7 linked regions of the Homo sapiens genome follow. The protein of the gene in region 2 purifies or fractionates together with the protein of the main gene of each other region. This does not show direct contact. Each region holds a gene or a part of one and is shown on either strand. Other genes may lie near its edges.

Region 1 (4,244 bases), on a different chromosome or scaffold from region 2:
AATACAGTTCCCATTGCTAGGAGTGCTGCTTAAACATAACCACTTGTGAGGAGCCAAGACCCCAGGCAAAACCGGGGGCCAGTTTCTGGGCCCAGGTGATTGTTAAATTTAGAGGTCTTGATCACAGCTATAGGAAATAGCTTTTCAAACAAAACATTGGTGAGTCAGAATTTATCGAACACCACCATTTATACATTAAATAAACACTAAGAAAAAATATTCTAGCGACAAATGTAGTGGTGAAAACATGGAATGGATTTGAGAAAATACATCAACGTCTTCTCCAGGTATAAAAAAACGTATTATTTAGTGGAACTTTCAGTCTGACTAGAAAGTGGACATAGCATTTATTAAAAGGACAAGAACAACAACAAAAAATTAAAGTAGGACAAATGTGTTTAAGGTACTTTATAGTTTTATTTTTATTTATTTATTTCTTTGAGACGGAGTTTTGCTCTTGTCCCCCCAGGCTGGAATGCAATGGTGCGTTCTCGGCTCACTGCAACCTCCGCCTCCCAAGCTCAAGCGATTCTCCTGCCTCAGTCTAAGGAATAGCTGGGATTACAGGCACACGCCACCACGCCCGGCTAATTTTTGAATTTTTGGTAGAGACGGGGTTTCGCTATGCTGGCCAGGCTGGTCTGGAACTCCTGAGCTCAGGTGATCGATCACGCCCGCCTCAGCCTCCCAAAGTGCTAGGATTACAGTCGTGAACCACCGCGCCAGGCCTACTTTATAGTTTTAATTTTTTTTTTTTACATAAAAGTGGTTTATTTGTATGTAGACCTCTACATAAAAATTACAATGAGGGTTATTCCCAGGTATAGGAGCGGTGTTTCTGGTTAAAGAAATCATGAATGATGTTTTCAGAGACACTCATGAAAGAGAAATGGCTCCCCGGGTTCTGAGGGTGAGGAGCAGCGCCCGCCCTCTAGGATGCTTCCAGAGTGAGTGTGCAGCACAGCCGGACCGAGGAAAAGGATTATTCCCCTCTTCACGCGGGTCGGGCCGTGCCCTGGACTACAGCTCCCGTCGTGCCCCTGGCCACTCGTATTCGGCCCCGCCCCGCCTGCCGTGTCCCGCGGCGAGCGCAGGCGCGCTGCACTCGGTCACCGCGGGCTGCGGCGGCTGGGCGGGGCTTTCGGGCGCCCGCGGGACGGTTCCGCCCTCTCACTGCACCCCCGGGCTTCTCTTCGCAAGGTTCACCTCGAATGAGGAACAAGCGGGGAGGGAAGGGAAGGGCTGCGGCGGCGCGGGCGCACCCCGTCGGGCCCGGGGCTGGGGGAGGCCAGGTCACGTAACTGCTGCTCTGGCGTCGGGCCGGGGAGGGGGCGCCAGCCCCGGCAGCGCGAACCCTGCGCGCGCCGCGGCTCTGAAACAGTTACCGGCTAGTAAACAACAGCTGCGCGCGCACCCGCATCAGCTGGCGCCGGGATACTGCACCTGCGACCTCCTTCTCCCTCACCCTGCTGCCCAGTCAGGCCAGCCTGCGTGGCCGTCTCCTCCTCTACTGGGACCCTGAGGAAGAACGACGAGGGGGTGACCTGCGCCGGGGCGGGGGTAGGGGAGAACGCGCCTCCGGCAAAGGGGGTGGCTCGTCCTGTCACACGCAGGAGAAACCTAGCGAGCGGACCGTGGCTCAGTGGACTAGCTACGACTTGCCACGACTCTGAGCTGCAGTCCGAGGTGTCTTGATCCGCTAACCTCCTCCCAGACCCCGAGGACCTTTCTGCTAGGAGAAGAGCGGGCGCGCCACCCCCACCGACCTCTCGGAGACAGGAATCCGCTCTGCCCCTGCATCCTCCTCTGCTCACCCTTCTCTCAGTAGTGTGGGTTATTTTTCCCGTTATGCATGTGCACCTTTCCCACCAGACCCAAGTGGATTGTCGACATCAAAAACACCGGGTGGCTTTGCATACACCTCCCCCCAGCCAGACCTGTGGGGTATTCACCTGATACACAACAGGTGGCCGGGTGTACACCTTTTAGCAATCTGATCCACGCTATAGTCGCCTGATAAAGGTTTGCCTGCACGCACTTCGCCCAACTAGAACCGTGGGACACTCACCAGATAAAGGACTACCTCGACAGGAAACTGGGGGCTGAGGGGAGGGAGGCTTCATCTGCTGCCCTGAGACCATGGCACTGAGCCTTCAGCCCCGGACCAGAGGGGTTAGCTAGGTAGCTCTTCATTCTGAAGGAAAGAAGTCACACAAGATTGGCATTGTTTTGTCTTTTTGTTTTTTGTTTTTTTCTCTCTTAAAAAATATATTCACCTATTGGTGATGCACTTTCTAGGACAGTCGGCTTGAATTCTGAGTAGAAGTATTCTTAGTTGGGGCTTTTTGTGTGGTGTGAATCAAGGTTATTGAAATGTGTTATTTTTCAAGTTATCTTTTGTATTGCAGTCAAAAGTAGCTAGCGTAAGAGGAAGATTTTGCGAGGTTCCCCCCACTTTTTTTGTTCTTAAAAAGAACAAAATGCATCCTCCAGAAACCACCACCAAGATGGCTTCAGTTCGGTTCATGGTGACACCGACAAAGATCGATGACATTCCAGGTTTGTCAGACACCAGTCCGGACCTCAGCTCTCGATCTAGTTCCCGAGTAAGATTTAGCTCCCGGGAAAGCGTGCCTGAAACAAGCCGGAGTGAGCCTATGAGTGAGATGTCTGGGGCCACCACTTCGCTGGCAACTGTTGCACTGGATCCACCCAGTGACCGGACTTCTCACCCCCAGGATGTCATCGAGGGTAAGTAGAAACACAGACCGCAGCATACTTTCATTACTGGGTTCTTTATCCAAGATGACCATCTATGGATCTGGAAGATCATAATCATATAATTATGATTATAATAGTCATCAGGAACCAAGGCATCTCTTTGTGAGATGCTTAGGAACTCTTTGGAATAATAGCATAGTGGCTCTTTGCAGTAGTAATTTGGTATGTGGGAAGGTGTATGACAAGAAGGAAGGCAAATGTATATTTTAACTTCCTCATTTTTGTCTTCTTAGAAATGAAATGGGTATTTTGGTTAAAAGTGAATATCAAAGAATGTAATCGTTTTCAGCACACAGAATCCTAAATTTTAAAATTTAGTGAGTTGGATATGTGTTCTGTAGCCATCATTGGCTATTTCAGTCTGCTTTAAGACTGGTTTCATGGAGTAGTTACTGGTCGTATCTTAGCAGCTTTCCTCCAAGACTTCGAATGTGTATTGCAAAATTCTTTTTTGAAATCTGTATTTTTATGGAGACCTTGACACAAGTAGCTAAGCCCACTCAGGGTGATGGTGGGTAGACCTAATGTGCTATTCTGTCAAATGGAAGACTTCTGAAAAGGCTTTTAGGGCCTGATTCCCATGTAATTTATTCTCTCTGAGCTTTAGATGGAAAGTCTGATGATTAGAGTTAGCAGGTAGCACACAAGCCACTCCTGGCTCATGTTGACTGCTACAGACCTTTAGCTTCCTAAACCAGTTTGTGTGTGTCAGCTGGCTTGGTTTTATTTGAGGTACTGGGAAGAGGTGATGGAAGAGAGAGAAGAGAGAAAATGGGGAGATCATAACATTTTTTGGACTCTGAAATTTAAAAGTTTGAGACCTGTACTGCTTTATATATTTAGTTTTATGCTGTGTTGTAACTAATGTAATCTTTTAATGATAAAAATTTCCCTTAAAGACTCTTAAAATAATATTCCACCCAAGTTTGAAAACCATAGCCTCACCCACTGACTTGTGAAAGCAAGGCTTACTCACCATTTTCCGGTGTCAGGAAATATTGTTCCTTTTAACCTAAAGGGTTCAGGAAACCAGAATGATTTTAGTTCCCTAATTCTGTTTGTGTTTTTAGTATCTGGAGACAAGGTAGATTTGGTAAAGTTTACAGTCCTAGAATTCACTCATCCTTGACTAATCATTTTTTCTTTTATGGAGACATAGGTTGGTTCTCAGACTTTACTGTTTTCAACTTTTTGACAAATTTTACAGTGTGTCATACACTGGATTAAAATTACAGTATGGAATACAAATTTATCATTTCCTCTTCCTCCAAATTAATTCCAAATTGTGGTTTTAGTTTTTATCCATCATGCTGTATTTAGGTTGTAAAAATTCCAGGTAAAGACTATACCAGTGTTAATTTCTTAATATTGTAATTATCATTAGGTAATTTATAGTTTAGTTTGTTAGACTTGTGACTTACATGTTACAGAATTGTATTTTTATTCTTTGGAAAAGTGGACTT
Region 2 (4,420 bases):
TTACAGGCATGAGCCACTGCCCCTGGCCATTATAACTATTTTCATTGGCTTATCAGGCACATGATAACTATAATAAATCAATAACCAGAATTTTTAAATAAAGAAAGGAAGGAATTGTTTCAACTCTTCCTGCTACCCCTCTATCCCTCAAAAGGGTAGGCTGAATGTTGTCCTCCAAAGATATCCATGTCCTAATCCCCAGAACCTGTAAATATATTACCTTATATGACAAAAGGGACTTTACATGTTTAATAAGTTAAGAATTTTGAGATGGGCAGATTTTCCTGAATTTTGCAGATGGGCCCTAGTGTAATCACAAGGGTCCTTATAAGAGACAGGCAGAAGAGTCAGAATAAGAGAAAAATACTTCAAGATGTTACACTGCTGGCTTTAAGGTGGAGGAAAGGCCAAGAGCCAAAAAATGCAGTGGTCACTACAAGCTGAAAAGAAAAAGAAATGGATTTTCCCCTAAAGCCTCTGGAGGGGGCACAACCTTGCCAATACCTTGATTTTGGCTCAGTGAAACCCATTTTGGACTTCTGACCTTTAGAATTGTAAATAAATAAATAATTTTGTGTTGTTTCAAGCCATCACAGTTGTGGTAATTTACTACAACAGCAATAAAATAGAATTAAATACAGAGATCTGAGGAGTTGAGTAGGATAAGCCTACTCCAGCAGGTTATTTCGGGAGTATGGTGAGACTCACTAGGATGGCGGAACTCAATTAAGGAAGTCTGAAGCTGATAAGCCAGAGAGGGAAGGCTCTCATTTCATTTTATAAGGGTTGCGTCACACTAGGAAGATCCAATAGCAACCACAGTCTCAAAATTAATGATTACAAATAGGACACAATTCCAAGAGTCGGGAGCCAAGCAGAAAATGGATTAGGGAAGACATGGATGATATGAAACAGGAAGGAGGGGTACAAGGCAGCTTCCTGGGAAGTTGCCAGGGCAGTCACAGTTCACATTCATTAGGCTGTGGGCACCAAATGCATATGGAAAATCTAGCTGACTTAACTGAACTCCTGAAGAGGAATGAACACCTCATTTATTGAGGAGCTACTACCAATTAGAATATGTATTTCATTTGTTCAATAACCCCATGAGTACAGTAACACAATCCTTGCTTTACTAAAGCGGAAGCCAATTCAAAGAGGTTCAGTGACTTGTCCAAGCTCAGGGAAAACACTAGGAAGTGAATATGGGTCTGACTCCATCACTGATTTCAGGAGCCCTGCCCTTTCCTCCACACCATGCCCCCTTGCTTTCAGAAAAAAAGGCTTGTTGACTGAATGGTTGTATGCACAGTTCAAAGCAGAAACACACGATGACATCTTTTGAGATACTCTAACAGTGAGAACTTGAAAATGAAGTTAAAAATTAAGCGGCAAAACCAAGCCGAGGCTTTCTGAGAAAGTGGGGCCAAACCTGTTGCCGTCTGACTGCCACGTGGCTCACTATTTATCCCTGTAAAAATCTGCAAAAGTATTTGAAAGGGAAGAAGGGACAGAAAACTCCCTCCTTTTCCAAGTTAGCCTTATAGTCTAGGGCTTAAAATACTGGTTTAATGGTGAAGGTAAGTGCTTTTCTTCTTTTTGGGTAGAAGGATTATTACTAACTTACCAAAGGTCCATTAAGGGGAGGGAACAGTTTTAGGAGAAGTCAGAGAAAAGACATTAACAGCAACATAAGGATCTCCATCTGGTAATATTGCCTAATTCCAAAATGAAGAGACTCTCTGAAAAAGATAACTGATTCAATGAAGACCCTAGGGCAAGGCTTGAGAAGCCACTGGTACCAATGGACACTGTGGACAATGGTCATTTCTCCAAGGACGCTGTGAGTATTAACTGTGATGCTGTGATTAGTCAGACTGGGATTGGCTGTGGAATGAAATACTGATCAGAACTGACAAGATTTGTGTTTGGGACTGTGGCTAACGAGTCTTTTCAGACTTCTATATGAATTTGAAATGGTCTCTCAGGAAAAGGAGAACATGGCCGGGCCTGGTGGCTCACGCCTGTAATCCCAGCACTTTGGCAGGCTGAGGCGGGCAGATCACTTGAGGTCAGGAGTTTGAGACCAGCCTGGCCAACATGGTGAAACCCTGTCTCCACTAAAAATACAAAAATTAGCAGGGCGTAGCGGCGCGTGCACCTATGCGCATGCATAGTGCGCGTGCCAGCTATTCAGAAGGCTGAGGCAGGAGAATTGCTTGAACCCAGGACGTAGAGGTTGCAGTAGTTGAGATCATACCACTGCACTCCAGCCTAGGTGACAGAGTAAGACTCTGTCTCAAAAAAATAATAATAATAAAAGAAAAGGAGAACATGACCAAAGTTATGAATAAGACTGAAGGCAAGAAAATTGTACGCTTGTAGAGATCACCTAGCTTGTTGCCCTCATTGTACAGCTAAGAAAAGGCACCCAGGGACATTGTGGTCAGCACCAATTTCTCAGAAAGATAGGCAGATGATGAGAGGGCCCTCAGTTTTTCTAACACTGAAGGAATTGCTTCTATGTTTTCTGGTGAACTCCTCCCCACTCATCTTGAGGATTCCAGGCCAGAAGAATCCACTTTAAAAAAGAAACATTTAAAACCAATTTAACAACCAATCAAAGGCACTTTTATAGAAATACATTTCATTTGCTGTAGGCCTGTATTTATGGATCTGAGAGGGCTAGACTGCCAATATTGTGACTGTTTATTATTATTGCTGTTGCTAGTATCTAGAATATTATACAACATATAACACTTTGCAATTTACGAGGCATGTCTCATACTTTTGTTTTCACTCCAAACTGCCCAGTGAAGTAACATTATCCCAATTCTTCCTATGAAACAGTGAAAGCCCTAAGAGTTTTTGAAACTTTACCTGGTTTACTCAATTTGGGAATGGCAGAGCAGAATTCAGTCCTTGAATATCCTCCCACTGCAGGTTCATGCTCTTTGATCTAGGTGTAACATTTACTCTGAGTAAACTAGGACTCTGGGCTAACAGAGATGAAGCAAGACAGGCTGGATATTAGGAGAATCTAAGAGCAATCTAACGACCATTATAATAAAATCATGAGTTCTAGACTTAAAAAAAGGGAAAAACCTGTTTTTTTGCTTATGCGTATACCATAATATTTACATTATTTATTTTTTTCTCAAATTCAACCTATACTGTGTCAAGTAATTTTTTTTAATATAACATTTTCCTTTAACTTAATTTCAATTCATTTTTCTGTGTCTACTTACAACTTTGGCACTAGAATTCACAATTTTTTTTTAGAGGTATATCTCCTTAAAGGGAAGGGTTCTGACACTGTTACATGTTCTCAATTGTTTGCAAATAGGTTAATAATTATTCCAGTGTCTCTAAGTACATATCAACCATGCCAGTGTTCAGCCTCCATAATTTTATTAGCTTCTGTGCTTATTTTGGAAAAACATTTCCCATTACCATGAAAGACCTCAGTTTAGGATGGTTTGGTATGTTAGCCTGATTTCTGCATTCGTCTCATGCAAAGGAAAATAGGAAACGAAGAACTGAAATTACCTATTGATACAAAATCAAAGTAGCATTTGAAACCATAAAACTTAAGTAGGGCTTTTCATCCTTTCTCGTTAGACAGCAACAGAGAATGGGAAGAAAAACTAAAGTGATGGGTTTGTGATACAATTCCAGTAACATAAAGAGCAAGGAGAAGTAGTTTTGTTGTGTTTATGTTTAATATTCAAAGCTCAACCTAAAAGTATTTTTCATTATCAAACTTCCTTCTAGAATAAATGATTAAAACTTGATTTAAAATATACAAATTCTCCTTTATAATACCTCAAAATGGAGCTACCCCATTGAGTTTTAAGCTTGTGATTAAAATATTACGAAAACAAAGGGGAAGTTGTAATAGGTAGAACAAGCAGTAGTCTAGGCATTAGGGGATCTGGTGCTGGCTCTGTGCATCATGTGGTTTCAGGCAACTTTTCAAATTTTCTACGCAAATTTTCTTATCAATAAAATAAACAGTTGGGCCAGAGGATCTCTGAGTCTCTTTCAGCTTTCAGTGTTTATAAGATTGGAGAAGTTGGTGGGAAAGCTTTAAGTGGAGTGTAAGTAATTGCAGCTGCATGTACAGTTAAAGAGTTGCCTTCAGCCAAGCCACGGGATCTTGCATAAAAAGTGAAATCAAATAGAAAATGGTCCAAACTCTGGGTTTGACCACAGATGACTTCAGCTAGGATCTGAGTGTAGAGCAATGAGCTGAACTCCTGATATCCAGATGTTAGCAAGACTTGGAGGCCTTCTAAGGCAGAGCAACAACCAGTATCTGTCCTGGTGCTGACCTGATCTTACTAGCAATTGGGCCTCCATTTGGGTCCATTGTACAAAACAACAACAACAACAACAATAAAATCTCCAAACACCCAAA
Region 3 (3,771 bases), on a different chromosome or scaffold from region 2:
ACATCCATAGTCTCTTCAAATTTACTATAGATAAACTCAGTAAATCCTAACGGATTTTAAGGTATTATGCCGGGTATTACAAGTGCTTACTTGTTCACTCACTGTTTCTTGATGTCATCCTGGGCTGCCTTATAAATGTTGCTATACAGTGGAACTTATAAAGCCCTTGATTGCCTTTCCTGTCAGAATCTGATATTTTCAGAGAACTCAGCAAAGAACCTTTCGGTTCAAATCTGAGTCACAGCCCCAAAATAAAATAAATAAATAAATAAGTAATTTTTTTTAAAGAAAATAACCTTATCAAATTGCTTCACTGGATAGATGAGGAAATCAAGGTCAAGACATTAAGGCAACTTCCCCAGTTATTTAATAGAACAGGTTTCCCTCTGCACTTTTCATCCCACTTTGGTTTTCTTTTTCATTATCATGAAGCTATGTAAACGAGCCCACAACAAGAAACAAAAAGACACGAAAGTTCATTCTTCATTTTATTTGCATGTCCCAACAACTCATCTCAAATACTAAATTCAAAAGAAAAACTGTAGTTCTCCTCAGCATTAGCACTAATTTATGGTAACAATCATTTCTTTTAAATGTCTAACTTATTTAACCCCTTCATTTTAAATTGCAAATTAAAGCATGTATTTACATATTTATATACAAAAAACTTCAAAAACAAATTAATCCAAATCTTGGTCCAAGAGTTTCCACTTTATAAGTGGTATGGTACTATGCTATATATATCCTCTTCCAAAAGTCTCTTAGGACTTGGTAAGTTCCAAATATTCATTCACAAATGGTTCCCCTTTAAGCTTAATGAACCATATACTTCATTTCTGAGTAAATTAGAGGAAATATTACAGAACACGCTTTGTACAATACAGCACCACTACTGAGAAGGGCTCGAGGTTTTGTAATCCAAGGTTCTGACTTAAAGCAAAAATACACGGCATAGATTGCAACAGCAAAGAAGTGTCCAATTAAAACTAGAGGGTTAGGAGACAATCTGTAATAGAAAAAAATACATATTGGTAAGACTCAGAAACTAAAATTTACTCCAAAGGTTCCAATTACATATAATCTACGAAGCTCAACAAACATCCTACTTTTTTTTACCCAAGCATCATAATTCTGTATGAAACATTCTACATTTTAGAGGACGTCACAAATATGTCTGCATGTTAAGTTTGATGGCAGGAGCAAACCCCCCACCCCCCTTTTTTTTTTTTTAAGAAAAAATACTTAGAATATATCCCTTTCAGAAAAGCTAGTAACTCCTGTAACTCTAGTTTACATAAGTCATATATTTTTAGCTGTTTGTTTACTCATCCTGAGACACCACGCTGAAATATCTAGATGGCCTGGTCTGTTGGGATGTAGGGCTTTTAAAAATATCAGTATTAACATTCAGATTATAGATTATGAGAAATGACTCAAAGGATCACTTTGCAAATGAGAAATAACTCGATAGATTTCACTTTGTAGACTTTCCAAGAATAGTTCCACATATGTCTGTACGCTCAAAACTAATACTGGGTTGTATAAGTCCCCGTACTTCAATGAAACTAATTCTTAAATTAAAATTTCTCAATTATTCCTGGCTCCCACAGACCAGAACATATGGATAAATCCATAGGCAAAAAACAAGCTTCTATTTTAATCAAGGGTTATAGCTTCCTCTACCACCACCTTTAACTGCTGTTCCCTAGAAAGAAAACAGTACTAAATATTGCGTTTCTTCATTTCTTTGGGCCACCTTCTCATTGGGATACTAACAGATAATAAAATATCAAAATGTGTAAGGAAGAAAGATTTGCAGTAATTCATCAACTGAACAGTCCTAAGAAAATCTGGCAGGTTTGTATCCTCTGTGCCATCACAACTTACACAGAAAGCAGCCCAACAGGACCCGCAACACATTCGCCACCAAGTTTGAAATAAAGAAAACAGGCTTTTCTTAGTTGATGCAGGGAATCTAAAATAAAATTGTAAAATAATCAAATATGTGTACACACTTATGTAGGATGCTAATGATATATCAGAAAAAATGAGAAATAACAAACGCTACATCTTGCAGATAATTTTTAAATATCTAGTCCTAGAATTTCAACAACCAGGATTTCTTCTGAATTCCATAATCAGCATTATGGAGAGTAATATAAATATGAATAAACTTTTTTCTGTTAGTAAATAACTACTAATATTTAGGTCTTGGAAGAGTTGTTTAAAAGGTACTTCCTTGATTTTGCTGTTAATTCATTAAGTGATGCAAAATACTTTGGAAGCTCTTTTTAACACAATTCTAGAAACCAAATTCCCAGTCTCTAAGATGTCCAACCAGTATCTCTAACTAAGCAGTAAATTATCAAGTGAAGAGAGCTGTGAGTAGCGATAAATAATAATTCCTTATATCTATAAAGTTTTTAATACCTTTCAAAGTAACTCATAAAACCCTCACAATGTAGTGTAATCAATTGATAACCTTTTTAACCATTTAGAATCAATGTTCTGTTCAGGTATGCCCAGATTTTTCTTTACAACAGATTTTAAAAAGTAAAGGATGCAACAGGTAAACTTTTGCTCCAATAAAGGTCTTTCCTCCTCCAATCTTGTAACTTTTAAAAAATGTTGTTTTGTTGGTAGATTTAAATTCATAATGTTAAGAACTCAAGAAGTTAGAAAAGCTTAGAAAGAAGAGCTCAGAAAAACTCTTAAATTTAGTTCTTTTTATTTGCCCAAAACTCTAAACTTAGTTCTTTTTATTTGCCCAAAACTCTAAACTTAGTTACTTTCATTTGCCCAACCAGCCATTTTAACTTCTATGCCAATTTAGCAAGAGAAATTTGTTTGGAAAAATCATAACCAGTGAGATTGGTGGGGTTTTTGTTTTGTTTTTTTTCCTTAGGAAGAGTTAATGGTTATAGAGGCTACAGAAAGCATTTTTATTGTATCATCTTTTGTAATTATAACCACAGCACTTATCACTAGGGCCTCAGCCAGATCATACAAATAGCTATGTTGCAAATATACTAGAGTAGTGGCATATGAGTCAGTATTTATTCTTGAAAACTGAAAAGCCTAGTTTCATTAACCTACTATTAAACTGATGTGTACACTGCTGTGGTGAGGAGGTGGCACAGTTGCCTTTTCTCCTCCATTTCTTTTAATTTTTTGTTTGTTTGTTTTAGAAGATGAAGTCTCACTCTGTTGCCCAGGCTGAGTGCAGTGGCACTTCATATAGCTCACTATATATAGCTCACTGTAGTGAGCTATATAGTCCCAAATAGCTGGGACTACAGGCACACGCCACCATGCCTTGCTGATCTTTTAATTTTTTGTAGAGATGGGGTCTTGCTTTATTGTCCAGGTTGGTGTGAAACTCCTGGCTTTAAGCGATCCTCCTGCCTTGGCCTCCTGAAGTGCTGGGATTACAGGCATGAATCATTTCGCCTGGCCTCTTTTCCTCCATTTCTAACACTGCTTCTGCTAAGTTGTGTTTTCTCTAATATATACATTGACCGTGACCTCTGTATAATATGGAAACAGTAACAAAAGCACCAAAATAATCCAAATAAGTAAAGGGTGAATGCATTGTTACTTGTGCTTTTCAACAGGGACAAGATTAACAGCTTGTATTCATTTTATAAAATACTACTTTAAAAAGAAATTGAAACTAGTGTTAGGAAGAAAAAGACTACATTGCCTTTTAATACATGGCCAAAAACACCTTCCATCACAGTCTTGTGTGTGTGAGGACAAGCATGATCTAGT
Region 4 (4,530 bases), 6.9 Mb from region 2:
AAGCCAGCGGGTGAAACAGAGGAGCAAGCCAGGAGTGCAGAGAAGCGCAAAGTCAGGGGAAAGCATGCCAGGAGGGGCAAAAGAGAAAGAAATGAGAGACAGACACACAGAGAGAGAAGAGGTAAGGAATACACAGAGGAAGAAGAAAGAGGAGACATGGTGAGCTAGATGTGAGAACAAAATCATAACATGTACAAATTTACAAGTATTTATGGAGTGCACTCTGTACTAGACACAATAGAAAACTACAATAGAAGGGAAAAGATATTGTGAAAACAAGTATCCCAGTGCTTGCTTCTGTCCCAGCGTCCCTCAGGCTTGTCCCTCTGTGCGTCTCCTCCGCCTTGGTCTCCTTCCTGCCCCATACCCAAAGCCCTTCTCTGTCATCATAGATACTTCATCATGGGAACTGCAATAATAAATTCCCTGCCCCCACAATTCTCTGGAGCCCCAGAGTCATGTGATTCCCATCTTTCATCCTTCGAGTTGGAAAATCCCTCTTAGACCAACTACATGCTACAGTAACACTTAGAGGAAAAAATATAAAGCATAAAAGCATGTATTTTACAAAATATATGTTTCTAATACAAATTTAGTTACCATATTGAAGAGGCGTTTGGGAGAGTCAGACATGATATAATGAGGGTTTGTACTTTAATGACAGGGATGTGTTCTGAGAAATGTGTCGTTAGATGGTTTCATCGTTGTATGAACATCATAGAGTGTACTTACACAAACCTAGATGTCATAGCCTACTGCACACCTAGGCCATGTAGTTTAGCCTATTGCTCCTAGGCTACAAATCTGTACAACATATAACTGCACCTAACACTGTGGGCGACTGTAACACAGAAGTAAGTATTTGTGTATCTAAACATAGAAAAGGTACAGTAAAAATATGGTATTATAATCTTGTGGGTCCACCATCTTATATGTGGCCCATCATTGACCTAAACTTCGTTATGCAGTGCACGACTGTAGTTTCAGCAGAAAGCAGCCAGGATGGAATGAAGGCACAATGAAATGGTTTTCGAGGGTACTCTAAATTAAGTATGACCATAAAAATAGAGACAATCAGGCCGGCTGGGATTTGGGTAAGGTGAGTGCACACCTCCTTAAACTTTGCACCCCAGGTGCCTCGCTCACCTCATCCCAGTCCCAGCCTTATCAAACAGTTTGTTTGTTTGAGTATGTCTAGAAAGAGAAAGGAAAGCAAGTGAAGGGAAAAGAGTAATGATTCTGGAAAGAAAGGTGATAAGCCTCAGAGTAAGATCTTCAGGGACTGGCAAGATGAGCTGGGAAAGAAGAGTGAAAGGGAGAAGCATACCCATCCTGAGGGAGTGACCCTGGAGAGATACTTTGGAGACAGACTTAGGGGTAGGAGGTAGGAGGCAGAAAGAAATGGAATTTCATGGACCTAGGAATGTTGAGAGACAACTGAGAGACATTCCATCTGAGACTTAAATTCCTTTTGTACTACCTTCACTCATAACTTGTTCCTATAATAAGATCAGATAAACTTTGAAGATATTGGATGAATATGAACGAAGGAAGAAATGAATGGATAGATGAAACAGAATGGTGACTACATTCACCATATTTTAGTTTAAGTATTTTTGTGTTTTGCGCCTGAAAGGGCCTAGAAATGGAGTTAGGGAAGTGAAGACCCCTATAAAGATTTGGGGCTAGCAAATGGACCCAGCTGCCCACCACCTACCTGCCAAAGGAGAAGAGGCACATGAAGAAGATGGCACTGGCAAAGGCATGGGGGTCAAAATCACCTCCCAGGATGTCAATCACACGACCAGAATAGTGAGGGATTAATGTCTCACCTGAAAGAGGCATGAAAAATAACACAAGAATGTGCTGGTGCCCAGGCCCTTTTACCACCTCCAACTCACAACGTCCTCTCCTGACTCACCCAAAACAGCAAGGACAAGGAAGAAGAAGGCGGCAACGAGGAGAGGCAGGTCCGGCCTGGAGAGCTTCAGCAGCCTCCACATCAAGACTTTGTTGTTCACCTGGTCCTGCTCCTTCTCCTGGGCTCCAGGAGGGCTCAGAACAGCCCACAGTGACCAGCTGAGCCCCGCAGCCCCGTACCCCACCAGCAGCCAGCTCCAAGGGGCTGAAGCGACTCTGGCTGGGGGAGCACGTGAGGCCCCCGCGACCAGGGCTCTCAGGGAGACAGTCAGGGGGGTGGCCAGACAGAGCGGGAGCAGCAGTGTCCCCACAAATCCCAGCAGCCCTCTTAGCTTTAGCAGCCCCCACAGCCCTCCCAGCCGCAGGGTCCCCTCCAGCCATAGTCCTGGCAGCCCTTGAGGAAGCAAAGTCCCCAGAGGGCCCTGAAGCAGCCACAGTAAAGCCGCGTCCACCAGCAGCAGGGAGGTCCAGGGTCTCAGGTCAGGGAGCCGCATGGCTCTGTCAACGGATACGAGATGAGAAATCATGGGGGTGGAGTCCCAATCCTTGTCCCTGCCCTCCTACCCGCCCGGCTCCGCCTAACCCGTCCATCGGCTTCTCATTTTATCCTATTCAACCCTGAGAGCTCTCCTGAGTAACCGGTGCTCATCCGTACACCCCTCCTACGACAGACAGCTTTCGGCCTTCTGGGGAGCTGGAAGCATGACCATCAGGAGCCTCGTGCTTAAAAAAAAAAAAAAAAAATCCCCGGACCCCCACCCCCACCCCCGCCTGCCGCGGCGAGCTAAGTGGTCCGGGCTCCGCTCCCTCCTATCGCCGGGTGCAGAGGGACTGGGAAGCAGGAGCGTGGAGTGGGTAGTCACTTGGGCTGCGTCCCTGTTGGCGCTCCAGGTTCCCCTCCGCACCAACTCACCAGCCGCGGCGGGGAGACCGCAGCTCCGGGGACTTCTGCTTCAGCGCTGAGGTCCGCTCCGTCTCTCCCAACCTCGCTACCGGCTCTGGTCCGCCAGCTACGCTCGGCCAGGGCGGGCGTCAGGGCTCGGGCAGCTTTCGCTTTCGCTTCCCCAGCCAAGGCCTTCATTCTGGGCTGGGCCGCCGGGAGGGGGCGCGCGAGACCCGCAGACAGCGGAACTGGAGCCCGAACTCTGGTTCGCACTGTACAGGCCTGCAATGAGTCTCACTCGCCTTTAGTGGCGGTTACTCTGGGATATAAAACTGCAAAAATGTTTCTTTATCATTAAGTAAAATACAGTTGTCTCAAGGGCAACTTTATCTGTTGTCCTTGCTTTGTAATTGGAGAATGCTTTGTAATTGGAGAATCACTGAATTTTCTCAAAGTTACTACTTCAAGCTCTGAGCCTACTATTAAGAAGTGCCTTCTTTCTGGTCCGGCGCGGTGGCTCACGCCTGTAATCACAGCACTTTGGGAGGCCGAGGCGGGCGGATCGCCTGAGGTCAGGGGTTCGAGACCAGCCTGGCCAACATGGTGAAACCCTGTCTCTACTAAAAATACAAAAATTAGCCAGGGCGTGGTGGCGGACGCCTGTAATCCCAGCTACTCGGGAGGCTGAGGCAGGGGAATCGCTTGAACTCAGGAGGCAGAGGTTTCAGTGAGCCGAGATCGGGTCATTGCACTCCAGCCTGGGCGACAAGAGTGAGACTTCGTCTAAAAAAAAAAAAAGTGCCCTCTTCCATGCAAGCTCCAGTTTTAGGCGAGCGAGCCGGGCTCTCCTAAATAGAAGGTTCCAACCAATCTCACCAGGCCAAAGGGGATTTTCACGTACAGACTTTGAATTTAGTAGGCCCTGAGCGTTCATCTTCATCCGTCCTTCTCAGCCGGAGCACCTTGAGCTGGCGCGTGTTCAGGTGCCTCTGAGTCTGTACTCCAAATTATGTTGGGCGCACCTTCAGCCTATGAGGGAAATGCCCCGTACTGAGCTTTGGTTCTTGTTCTATTTTAACACTGTTTAGAACAGTAATTAGGTTTTTAAATATCCTTCCTGACCCAGAGCCTTCCTATGCAACAGAAAGATTCGTTTATTCCAGAAAGGACTCTTCAGATTGAAACCACCTCCCAAACTAAAAACAAACAAACAAACAAATTCCCCAAAGGAAGGGTCGCTTGGATTCCAGATCACCATTTTGAAATGTTACCTGTGTGACTACCAAGGAGTCACTTAAAGTTTAAAATAGTGGTGGTGGGGAGGAGGGATTTTAAGTAGGGGCTCGCTAAAGTTTTACAACTCTATTCATTCTGGCATTTTAAGAATCTCTCTCTAATGAAAAAAGCTCCATGCTCAAGCTCATGCTCCTACTTTCAAGCATTTGTTTCCTTTATTTTCTGGAAAGTGACATGGTCCATAGTTCCAGCATGATTCCGAAAATCTCATGATGTGTGTCTCTTTCTTCTAACCTGGATCTTTTACATTTTCCCCACACTCCTCACTTAGGGGAGTCCTCCTGATCTCTTCTTCCTCTAAAATTATAGTCCTGCCATCTTGCAATTCAGCATGACACATCATGAAATTAGACCCTTAATGTCTGTCTTTATATTCAATATCCAATATCTCCAAAGTGTTATTTGGGATAAATGGTATGGTGTTTATATGA
Region 5 (3,771 bases), on a different chromosome or scaffold from region 2:
GGGAGCTGGGACTCACAACCAGACAGCCTGACACCAAAGTCCACATCCTGAAGCATGTGTATATGCACACATCAAGCTATTGTGTGTGTGTGTGTCTGTTTACGTGAATAAAAGCTGCATCAATGGCTACTCAGATATATTTCTCCAAGTTGTTCTTCCTAGGTAGTAGCATTTGGGATAATTTTTATTTTATTATTTACTTTTTTTAATTTGATTTTTAATGAGTGGGTATTTTTTATAATCAGAAAAAAAGTGGCTCTATATTTGTAAAATAGTATAGAAGCCTCACATTTTCAACAGCAAATGTAAAATACACACTTCAGTTAAAGCCAAATTTCATATATATATGTGTATATATTTTTTGTTTTTTGTTTTTTTTTTCTTGAGACGGAGTCTCATTCTGCTGCCCAGGCTGGAGTGCAGTGGCGCAATCTCGGCTCACTGCAACCTCCGCCTCCTGGGTTCAAGCGATTCTCCTGCCTCAGCCTCCCGAGTAGCTGGGACTACAGGGGCATGCCACCACGCCCAGCTAAGTTTTTGTATTTTTAGTAGAGACAGGGTTTCACCGTGTTAGCCAGGATGGTCTCGATCTCCTGACCTTGTGATCCGCCCGCCTCGGCCTCCAAAAGTGCTGGGATTACAGGTGTGAGCCACCGCGCCCGGCTACCAAATGGCATTTTTTAACTATATGATACAAGATATTTTGCTTTTCTTCACCAGATTAAAAGCATGCCAACCTTATATAAAAGCTACCTAGATTTAAAATGTGGTTTGTTCTGAGGAAAGGTCACATACTCAACAGTATGTGAAATAAAAGGATCCGTACATAAGCATATCATCTTCCATCCCGCACCTATCCAGGAGACTGCAAAGCTTCAGAGAGCTGGACAATGATAGACTCTTTAAGAGGGGAAGGAATCTTAGAGATCAGTTAAGCCCTCGCTATCATGTTACTCAGAAAGCCCTCGCTATCATGTTACTCAGACCCAAAGTCACACCACCGGTGTGGCAGAAGCAGAACTGGAATCCAATGCTCTTTGAACAACACCATGCCATCAGAAGACAACCTTTTGTTTTTTTCTTTTTGTGAACTTACCAGCCAATAAAGTCAAAGCCCATATTATGCCCTCATCATCAAAAAATAACACTAGCCTTGCTACAATCATGCAGGTGCATGCTGCAGCTCAATAATAACCTCAAGACCAATACAAGTGCTGGCATTGCCTGGATTCTGCTTTAAGCAATGAGAATCATGTAGGTAGAGGGAAGACAGGCTGCTGGGCTTTTTTAGTGCAAGCTGGTAAGCCTAGCCCCTTTAAGGCTCCAGGACATAAGATGCTCTTGGAGCTTTGAACACTGCAGTGACACGGTCCACAGTAAGAACCAGCTCTGCTCCTCTTGTGCCCATTTTCAGTCACTCTACACTTGTGCCAGCCGTTATGCCACAGTGCACATACAGGCCAGCTTACTTAAGCTGTCTCTTCTTTCTGTCCCTGAAGTTCCATCCAGGGGTGCTCTCTGCTCAGGAAATGTCTGTCCCCATATGGTAATCCCACCTGGGTAGGTCCACTCCTCAGGGAATTGCCTGTATAGTAAAACCTCTGGGGATCCCCTCTCTTTGGGTTATTCCTGCCCCTCTCTGTGTTTTTTCATGCAGCAGGGTTATGGATGTGACAGACTTTCATCTTGCAGTTCCCTGGCCAGGCTTGCTCCAGTCTCTCTTCTCTAATTAGCTGGCTCAATGACGTAAATATCAAGTGTAAGGTGTAAAGCGGTGGAAACAAGAAGCCTCATGGCAGCCTTGGCCTAAACTGAGTTCTGGAATCTACTTTTACCAGAGGGTCTTAATGGGAACTTGCTCTACCATTACCAAGCATACGAGATGAAAAAATGGAAACAAAATACCAGACAGGGACATGAAGGCTTTAAGTCTTCCTGCAGGTGTAGCACAAACCTTATGGTTCCAGTTGGGGCCAATCTAAAAACAATGATTTGACCATACAGACTTCCTGGGCACCAGAGGGTAGAATGATTTCTGTATTGCAGCCAATATCCTCCTTTGATCGGGACTCTCAGCCAGGACAGCAGCCAGGCTGATTATAAGGCACAGAGCAGCCAGGTTCCACACAGACCCTGGGGCGTGGGATTATGAGACAGCGATCCCAAATTGTGTTCTTTATCATGTGTCGAATTGCACACAGGGTCAAAGAGAGACCTACAAATAAGTTAAATTCATGTGGCTTTTACATTAACAACTGGATCACTGGCCCACAAGAGGTAAAGTCTGACCATTGTGGTCAAGATGTAGAGAAACACACTGTGAGTTCACCATGGAGAGGTCAGGGGAGTGTGTGGAGAGTGGGGAGTTATTTTAACAAGGATCAGGAAAAGAATAATGGATTCTTTATTCTGGGGATTATTCTTTTCCTGAATTTGGGTAAAGAAAAAAAAAGTCAATGGAATTATCACAAACTCAAAGGTTAAGAAGGAAATGCATAACACTGTCTTCAGGAATCACCTTATTCCAGATTCAAAGAGAAACAGGAACGAAAAGTATTCTCAGTTATGAAGCAGATTAGGAAACACTTCAGTAAGAGAAAAATGAAGGACCGCACTGCTCAAGCTGGAAGATGAGAGGAATCTCCATAGGACAAAAGTTGCAATTTTAATGGCCAGGCTAAAAGAGGGCCAGGCCAACTCCAGAGGACCCGAGATGCAGAGACACTACTTACCTACAGGCAGGCAGTTAATGGTGAGAGCAATTGTGGGAGCCTCCCTCCTTGTACCTAGGGCAGCTGCCTTGGGGAGTTACACAGATGTAGACAGACGTGAGAATGGAGAATCAGCCCCGCATACACCCATCCTTACTATAACAGTTTCTCAGTAACACAGATAACTTAGGGAAGCTGGTGAGGACCACTCCCTGAGGGAACTCCATGCCCTTAAGATTCCACAGGAAGGTACAGGAGAGGTGAGACACAGGATACTGAAGACAGTCCTGCCACAACAGCCCAGGCCGGATTAGATGCTGCACTAACCTCTGCACACAATCACTCAACTGAGTCTAGCCATGGAAGCACCAGTGAGGAAAACAAGAATATTTCCTCCTCTCACTCATGCCTCCATCTACTCTCATTACCCCAGATACTGCCAAGAGTTTGCTTGTTTTGGCTAGAATAATGTCAGAAATATACTGTGGCATCTCAGTAGAAATGCTCTAGAGGCTGTGAGGTGGCCCTGGGCTGAAGAAGTTCCCAAGACACAGACCTTTAAAACTGGGACAAGTTGATCACACTTGGTAAAGAGTAAAGGCCATTACTCTTTCCTCCAAAAGACCCAGGGACTGGAGTCAGCATCTGGCACTCTGTTTTTGAAAGATTCCCACTGCCAATTCATAGACTAATAAAAGAGATAATAAGCATGGATTACTCAGATCATGCTTTCTAGTCTGTAACTCCCAGAAGATTTAGAAATGGCATATAAAAGTAATTAAAAGGCACCTTATTAGTTATACGTCTTTTTTTTTTTCTTTGAGGCAGAGTCTCGCTCTGTCGCCCAGGCTGGAGTGCAGTGGAGCAATCTCTGCTCACTGCAAGCTCCGCCTCCCGGGTTCACGCCATTCTCCTGCCTCAGCCTCCCGAGTAGCTGGAACTACAGGCATCCGCCACCATGCTCGGCTAATTTTTTTTTGTATTTTTAGTGGAGACGGGGTTTCACCGTGTTAGCCAAGATGGTCTTGATCTCCTGACCTCGTGATCCGCCTGCCTCGGC
Region 6 (3,771 bases), on a different chromosome or scaffold from region 2:
AATTTTATACACACATTGCAATAATGTCTTAAATATTTTAAGGACCACCTGTAGAGCTGCGCCAAAGAAAAAAGCCAAAGTCTTCAGAAAATAAGGAATCTGCCAAAGAAGAGAAAATCAGTGACATTCCAATTCCTGAAAGAGCTCCAAAACGTAAGTTAGATAGACTTGGAATTTGTGCTACTACAAAAATAGTTTACACTAGAAAGTATATTTTATGTCAATATTTTAAATATACATATTTTGAGATTAAGTATATGCTCAGCTTTCACTAGGTTTTGGACAACCCCCAAATCTCACTGGCTTATGACAAACATTTATTTCTAATTAATATTACATGTTGTGGCTGCAGTTTGGCTGTCGTAGTTTTATGTGTTGCGAAGGAATAGTCCGTATTTGGGAAAGATTTTTCTTGTGACGTAGGAAAAGAGGAGGCAGAATCATGCAATGTCTCTTAAAGTTTCTGCTGACCTGGCACACTATCACTTGTACGCACCTTTTATTGGCCAAAGCAAGTCATATAATCAATTCAGACGATGGGATGTGAAGTATACTTTGATTACAGGGAAGTGTTCCAGGTCACATGGTAGTGGGCAGGGATATATAAGATTTTTAAAGGGAAGGAGAAAATAGTTGTGAATAATAATATAGTTTACCACACCCTGTCCTTGTGATTTATTTCTCTCCCTCAGACAAAATACGCTTACTTTTTCCCACACCCGAAAACTCTCTCTTATCTAGTCACAGCCTTAATCTTGAACCCAAAGGCTTATCTACATCAGGGCCAGCTATGACTCATTCTAATCCAGAGATCTATGAACTAAAAAGACAGGTTATCTGTTTTATGTCGGGGGTTCCCCAGAACACCCCCATGTTTGGTTATTAGCTGGAAGGACTCACAAGTTTCAGAATGAAGTTGTATTTACAGCTATGATTGATTGATTGATTGATTGATTGATTTTTGAGACAGAGTCTCGCTCTGTCACCCAGGCTGGAGTGCAGTGGCACGATCTCAGCTCACTGCAACCTCCACCTTCTGGGTTCAAGCGATTGTCCTGCCTCAGCCTCCTCAGTAGCTGGAACTACAGGCACATGCCACCACGCCTGGCTAATTTTTGTATTTTTGGTAGAGACGGGGTTTCACCATGTTGGCCAGTCTGGTCTTGAACTCCTGACCTCAAGTGTTCCACCTGCCACAACCTCTCAAAGTGCTGAGATTATAGGCATAAGCCACCGTGCCCAGCCTACAGCTATGATTTATTATAGCAAATAATATAAAACAAAATCAGCAAAGGGAAAAGGCCTATTTTGGTGAAATCTGCAAGAAACCAGGCATAGGCTTCCAAATTTCCACTCCAACAGAGTCACACAGGATGGGCCTGATTCCTTCAGCATCAAATTGTGACATTTGTAAAGTTTTATCTACCAGGGAAGCTCATTAGTGACTCAGTGCTCAGGGTTTTTACTGGGGGCTGGTCATGTAGGTATCCTCTGCCTACCATGTCCCAAAATTCTTGACTCCCAGAAAGAAAGCATAAACTACATTGTTTGTACAAAGAGGATAGGCACTGTTATCAGTTAGAGAATGGTGGGAACTCTCCTGAAATTGAAGTTCCTAGATGCCAGCCAAGAGAGCCTACCTTGCAAGCAGGGCTTTCTTTTTTTCCTTTTTCTTTTTCTTTTTTTTTCTTGAGACAGAGTCTCACCCTGTCACCCAGGCAGGAGTGCCATGGTGCGGTCTCTGCTTACTGCAACCTCCATCTTCTGGGTTCAAGCAATTCTTGTGCCTCAGCCTCCCGAGTAGCTGGGATTATAGGCATGTGCCACCACACTTGGTTAATTTTTGTATTTTTAGTAGAAACGGGGTTTCACCATGTTGGCCAGGCTGGTCAACTCCTGACCTCAGGTGATCCGCCTGCAAGCAGGCCTTTCTCAGGAAAGCGGTCTCAGGCCTGCTGTGTTAACTCTTTTCTGCACATCCCCCCACTCTCAGTATACACTGTTGGACAGGGACAGGATATCCCCTTACTCTGGGATAAGGAATCTGTTGTGTTTATGCCCCAGTTGTGTTCCTGGGGAATTGTTTTCCAGTTCATTGTTTTCCATGGTCCTTGATTTTACACTCTAGAGATCTTTTCTCTTCCATTTTCCTCTATAACCATATCTAAAGATGGGTTTGGAGAATGTGTCATCCTTAAGGGCTAAACAGCTTTCTCAGATTGCTTGCTCTGCACTAAAAGTTGAGGCCTATATATAAATTTGCTCAAGATAAAAGCTGTGGGTAATCTACAAATCTAGGTGAGGGGCTGGCCGCAAGAAAACTATATTTGGGAGCTGGAAAAATGAAGATCTATATTATATCATGACAAAACATTTGATAATACTGTTTCCTGTGAACAGTTGACAATACTATTTTTTTCTATCATTTTAGGTAATGAGATTGCAAAACAGAATGTTACTAGAGTGCCTTTGTTATTAACATCTGCATTTGACTACAGGAAAGAGATCTGGGTTTAGAATAGAATTGGACTATTTGTAAGTGGGAATAAAGAAGAAAATAGAGAATCCCAAAATTCTGGGACTTGTAATGTTGAAGTGAGAACAGTTTATTAACCAGGCATGGTGGCTCGCGCCAGTAATCCCAGCACTTTGGGAAGCTGAGGCAGAGGATTGCTTGAGGTTAGGAGTTCAGGACCGTCCTGGACAACATAGTGAGACCCTGTCTTTATTTAAAGAAAAAAAAAAAAGAAAAAGCTGTTTGTCTTTTTCAACCAATGAAAGTTAAAATCAAGAAATGGGAGGCCAGGCACGGTGGCTTAAGCCTGTAATCCCAGCACTTTGGGAGGACGAGGCAGGTGGATCATGAGGTCAGGAGATCGAGACCATCCTGGCTAACATGGTGAAATCCCGTCTCTACTAAAAAAATACAAAAAATTAGCTGGGCATGGTGGCATGCAACTGTAGTCCCAGCTACTTGGGAGGCTGAGACAGGAGAATCGCTTGAACCTGGGAAGCGGAGGTCACAATGAGCCGAGATTGTGCCACTGCACTCCAGCCTGGGTGACAGAGTGAGACTCCGTCTTAAAACACACACACACACAAATTTAAACTTAGGCAATATAGTGAGACCTCATCTCTACAAAAAATCAGAAAAAAAAAAATCAGCCAAGTGTGGTGGTGTGCCCCTGTAGTCCCAGCTACTTGGGAGGCTGAGACACAAGAATTGCTTGAATTCAGGAGGTGGAGATTGCAGTGAGCCGAGAATGTGCCACTGCACTCCAGCCTGGGCAACAGAGGAGATTCCATCTCAAAAAAAAAAAAAAAAAAAAAAAATTTAAGCCTAGGCAATACAGTGAGACCTCATCTCCACAAAAAAATTAAAAAAAAAAAATTAGCTGAGAATGTGGTGGTTCATGCCTGTAGTCCCAGCTACTTGGGAGGCTGAGGTAGGAGGATTGCTTAAGCCTGAGAAGTGGTGTTTGCAGTGAGCCAGGATCACGCCACTGCACTCCAGCCTGGACGATGCAGCAAGACTCTGTCTCAAAAAACAAACAAACAAAAAAGTTAAAAAATTTGAAAAATACAACGTAAGAAAGAAAATTAAATAGTCTAGAAATATCGATTACAAAATAGTATTTCCTCCCCAACTACAAAAATATATTTTCAGGGTAGAAAATGTGGAAAGTAGAGAAAAAAAAACCAAAACTGCATCCATAATTTCAGTAGATATAAATACTCTTAAAATTTTGGCATAAGTGTGGCTTTTTTCTA
Region 7 (3,771 bases), on a different chromosome or scaffold from region 2:
AAGACAGGGAGCAGGACGCCAAGTAGGGCCACGTGGACTCTCTGGATCCTCATTCTCCTGAGGATACTCACAGAAAGGCAACAGCCCCCCCTCCTCATCCCCGGTTAATTCCTTCATCATGGCACATTTATCCTTGCAGACAGGAGGTAGAGAGGTGTGGGAAGGGAAGCAGACCAGTCCAACCCCATGGTTCCCACTTCCCTGGGCCCCCTCGCCTACTGTACAGCCAGAGCTCCTTGGACATCAGCTCCCTCTGGGTCTGAAGGAGTCTCTGCAGCCTGCGGTCTGTCCTCATGTGCTCCACATGCCCAGCTCTGACAAGGAAAGGCTGGGATGTCCACAGGGCTGGAGAGGTTCAGCCAGGTTGGGGGGCCGCCTGTCCCATATCACACCCTCCTTTAGAAACCAAGGCCATTCAAATGATCTTGGTCTCAGGATCTGTCTACTGGTAGCGCCCATTCACGGCTTCAGTCATGCCTTAATGGTATTGTCTGTGTGAAGAACATAAACTCTAGAGTTGGGCAGACCTAGTTCAAATCCTGGCTCTGGCCAGTTACTAGCTGCGTGACACAGGCAGGCTACTTAAGCCTCCAAGCCTCAGTTTTTTTAATCTATAAAATGGAGCCAATAATACCTATGTAATAGGTTAGAGTTAGAATTAAAAGTTTCTAAATATAAAGTGCCAAGCACATAAGGAGCCCTCAATAAATAAAAACTATTGTTAAATAAACATACACAGAGCGGTCACTAGGTGTACCAGGCATTGCACTAGTTAGCTAGTGCAATAAAGAAATGAGAAAATTATCTCTGTCTTTGAGGAGCTCTCAGTCCAGAGGGCAGGCAGGCACACTGCATTCTTCACTTGGAATCAGGAGTACTAAGTGTGCCCTCAGGGCCATGGCAGCAGATAGGCTTAGCCATTAAGGGAGTCTGGGAAGGCTCTCCAGAGGAGGTGATCTGGGGTTTCAAGGATGGGAAGAAATTCGCTAGGCAGAAAAGGTGGAGGGAGATTTCAGATTTTGCACAGAGGCCACAGAAGAACTCATCTGAAACTCTACAAACTAACCTGCCTTCCCCAGAGCTTCATGAGCAGAGGCTGCAGAATCCAAAAGCAACTTTTTTCTTTTTTTTTTTTTGAGACGGAGTCTTGCTCTGTCACCCAGGCTGGAGTGCAATGGCAGGATCTTGCCTTACTGCAACCTCTGCCTCCCGGATTCAAGTGATTCTCCTGCCTCAGCCTCCCCAGTAGCTGGGATTACAGGTGCCCGCCACCATGCTCAGCTAATTTTTTGTATTTTTAGTAGAGACAGGGTTTCACCATGTTGGCCATGGCTGGTCTCGAACTCTTGACCTCAGGCAATCCACCCGCCTCGGCCTCCCAAAGTGCTGGGATTACAGGCATGAGCCACCATGCCCGGCCTCCAAAAGCAACTTTTTTACACACCCAGCCCTGCCCACCTCACAACCCCACCCCAGCGCAGATTCCCAGTATTCTTGGTGCCCTCAAGTGGTGGAGGTTGCAAACTGCAGCAGAGACTGAGGAGCAAAGGTCCCAGGGCTATCACATCCACCCCAAGTACAGAGCCAAGGAGTAGCTTCCACTTCTTAAACGCAAACCTCTGCCTGCACTATCAATCCTAACGCTGATTTCAGAGGCCTCACATAAGGCAGAGCACAGGGACCGGTTCTGGCCCTGGAGGGAAGGGATGGGATTTCATGCCGCTGCTGCTGCTCCTGCTGCTGCCGTCAGGAGACCAGACGCTTGGCTCCATTAGACAGCATTGTGGGGAGCAGGTCTCCTGGTTTTCTGAGAAGCTCCCATTCCATCCCACGCTACGGAGACAAAGGATCAGGCTTGAACCTCAGGCACTGGCAAGAAAGCTTCTTAACAGACAGAAGAGCAGAGGCAGACGGATGTCTTACAGTCACCAGCAAGAGGATGAGGCATTCATTCATTTGACAATTTCAGGCCCCACGCTAGGCCACTAAGACTAAAGCTGGCCACAGTAAGGAACCACCAGCTTCAGAAGCAAACCCCTGGACCTAAGGATGAGGCAGGCAAGGGCAGGGGGAGGTAGAGGGAGAGGGTCACAGCCAAGTGTGACAACACTCAGCCCCTGAGCTCGGTGGTGGTGGGAGGGTTGAGGATTCATCTTTCCTTCTCCACTCTCAGCTCTGGCAAGGCAGAAGGGGAACCATCTCTCCAGACTCACCTGTAGAAAGCAGCAGGCTCCGCATTCACCCGAATCTGCATGTGCTTGAACCTGGGCGGACCAAAGGGAAATGTGTGCTGACAACAGGGAGTACTGGCCTCACTCTTGTTGGAGTCCTGGATCACAAAGACCGCCCAAGCGGAGCCCGGCTCTGCCTCAAAACCGTGGCTGCCTCAGTCTGACCCTTTCCTGGACTGTTATGGGGTAGAAAACCCCAGGGCTAGGTGGTGTGGCAGGAGCTCTGCAGAGACAGGGCTGCCCCTCAGCTTTCTGCAGAGAGGACAGGGGTATTCCTGCTCACAGCATCTCCTCCTCCCAGGGCCTGGCCCAAAGGAGGGGGACAAGAAGCACAGGGCAGGCACTGGATCCATTGGCTGCCACACCCAACTGATCCAAGACAGGGCGGTTATGCCAGGGCAGTGAGAAGGCCAAGAGATGACAATGACGATGGTGATGGCCAGGCAGACACGGTTCTCAGACCTTCTCAGGTATGATTTCATTAATCCTCCTAATCCTCTCAGTAGGCAACGGTACCATTTCCACTTTAGAGACAAGAACATTGAAGCTTGGAGAGGTTAAAGACCTCTCCAAGATCACACAGCTAGTAACTGGCACAGCTAGGATTTGAACTTAGGCAGTTTTACTCCAGATCCCCTTCCTTAACTATTATGCCCCAGCCCAGAAACCTCAAGTGAGGGAGACACACCTAAAATCTCCCTCCAGCTTCTCCTGATGCACCAGCTTCATCACAATGGGGCCCATCAAAGTTTTGTTCACCACGGTCCCCAGGATGAAATACCCGAAGATGCTCACAGGCCCGAGCCAGCCTGTGCTGAAATAGAGAGAGAGGGAGAGAAGGGAGAGGGTGTGGGGTGCCACCTATCCCCACATGCCTCAGCCCTGACTCCTGTTCCCTCTCAGGTAGCCCCTGTCCAATCTGAGTGGCCCAATGGGCCCTCTGCTCCTATGTGGGGGCATCTGGTATGAGCTCTCAGAGCCAGGATATCTGTGACACTGCAACACAGGGCCAAAGGAAGGGCAGGGGCCTGAGCACGTGGGATGGGTGAGCACGTGGTAAGGTACGGTGGGAGAGAGGGGAAATAAGCTTCTCTTGGACCTTGACCTGGGAGAGCTGACTGAGGGCCCTCTGGGGAAACACCAGGCTGGGGAGGAGGGAGGCTTCACCTTTGGAAGCACTGGTAAGTGTAGTAGACGAGGGTGAACGGGGAGATGATGAGCTTGCTGGCCATGCTGCTGAGCTGCCGGCAGAATCGCTCCACGTCCTGGCTGATGCGCTGGTCCCTGGAGCCAATGACACAGAGTAGCTGGACCCAGGGAGATGGGCCCAAAGGTAGAGAGAACAAGAAACTTTCACATCACCTCTGCTCTTGACCTTGCCTCACAGTGCTGTGAACACTGACCCTATGGGAAGAGGGAACCAGACAAGGCTGGTTTCCTAGGGGCAACTAAATCCCAGGGCCTTTAAACAGGGTTCTAGAGAGTTGCATCTTACGGTGCCTTAGTTAATCCCCTGAAAAAGTGGGAACTGAAAGGTCCA

The links.
Region 1: the proteins of SLC17A2 (region 2) and SLC12A6 purify together in Homo sapiens (affinity purification with mass spectrometry; 2 studies listed by BioGRID and IntAct, with this or other methods). This does not show direct contact.
Region 3: the proteins of SLC17A2 (region 2) and SQLE purify together in Homo sapiens (affinity purification with mass spectrometry; 2 studies listed by BioGRID and IntAct, with this or other methods). This does not show direct contact.
Region 4: the proteins of SLC17A2 (region 2) and TAP2 purify together in Homo sapiens (affinity purification with mass spectrometry; 2 studies listed by BioGRID and IntAct, with this or other methods). This does not show direct contact.
Region 5: the proteins of SLC17A2 (region 2) and ANO10 purify together in Homo sapiens (affinity purification with mass spectrometry; 2 studies listed by BioGRID and IntAct, with this or other methods). This does not show direct contact.
Region 6: the proteins of SLC17A2 (region 2) and DPY19L4 purify together in Homo sapiens (affinity purification with mass spectrometry; 2 studies listed by BioGRID and IntAct, with this or other methods). This does not show direct contact.
Region 7: the proteins of SLC17A2 (region 2) and ABCD4 purify together in Homo sapiens (affinity purification with mass spectrometry; 2 studies listed by BioGRID and IntAct, with this or other methods). This does not show direct contact.

Annotation. Positions count from the first base shown.
Region 1 is NC_000015.10:34,334,917-34,339,160, reverse strand, and holds the start of SLC12A6 (solute carrier family 12 member 6), read left to right. Parts: upstream 1-1,379; 5' UTR 1,380-1,829; intron 1,830-2,144; exon of another isoform or gene 2,145-2,408; 5' UTR 2,409-2,480; coding exon 2,481-2,751; intron 2,752-4,244.
Region 2 is NC_000006.12:25,927,700-25,932,119, reverse strand, and holds the start of SLC17A2 (sodium-dependent phosphate transport protein 3), read left to right. Parts: upstream 1-1,428; 5' UTR 1,429-1,843; intron 1,844-4,420. UniProt on the Homo sapiens protein: Acts as a membrane potential-dependent organic anion transporter, the transport requires a low concentration of chloride ions. Mediates chloride-dependent transport of urate. Can actively transport inorganic phosphate into cells via Na(+) cotransport.
Region 3 is NC_000008.11:125,018,988-125,022,758, reverse strand, and holds the end of SQLE (squalene monooxygenase), read right to left. Parts: intron 1,976-3,771; coding exon 1,888-1,975; intron 1,007-1,887; coding exon 814-1,006; 3' UTR 476-813; downstream 1-475. UniProt on the Homo sapiens protein: Catalyzes the stereospecific oxidation of squalene to (S)-2,3-epoxysqualene, and is considered to be a rate-limiting enzyme in steroid biosynthesis.
Region 4 is NC_000006.12:32,835,820-32,840,349, forward strand, and holds the start of TAP2 (antigen peptide transporter 2), read right to left. Parts: upstream 2,921-4,530; 5' UTR 2,834-2,920; intron 2,419-2,833; 5' UTR 2,415-2,418; coding exon 1,922-2,414; intron 1,833-1,921; coding exon 1,718-1,832; intron 1-1,717. UniProt on the Homo sapiens protein: ABC transporter associated with antigen processing. In complex with TAP1 mediates unidirectional translocation of peptide antigens from cytosol to endoplasmic reticulum (ER) for loading onto MHC class I (MHCI) molecules.
Region 5 is NC_000003.12:43,615,288-43,619,058, forward strand, and holds part of ANO10 (anoctamin-10), read right to left. Parts: intron 1-3,771. UniProt on the Homo sapiens protein: Does not exhibit calcium-activated chloride channel (CaCC) activity. Can inhibit the activity of ANO1.
Region 6 is NC_000008.11:94,726,289-94,730,059, forward strand, and holds part of DPY19L4 (probable C-mannosyltransferase DPY19L4), read left to right. Parts: intron 1-42; coding exon 43-153; intron 154-3,771. UniProt on the Homo sapiens protein: Probable C-mannosyltransferase that mediates C-mannosylation of tryptophan residues on target proteins.
Region 7 is NC_000014.9:74,292,935-74,296,705, forward strand, and holds part of ABCD4 (lysosomal cobalamin transporter ABCD4), read right to left. Parts: intron 3,516-3,771; coding exon 3,399-3,515; intron 3,046-3,398; coding exon 2,920-3,045; intron 2,265-2,919; coding exon 2,214-2,264; intron 315-2,213; coding exon 220-314; intron 1-219. UniProt on the Homo sapiens protein: Lysosomal membrane protein that transports cobalamin (Vitamin B12) from the lysosomal lumen to the cytosol in an ATP-dependent manner. Targeted by LMBRD1 lysosomal chaperone from the endoplasmic reticulum to the lysosomal membrane.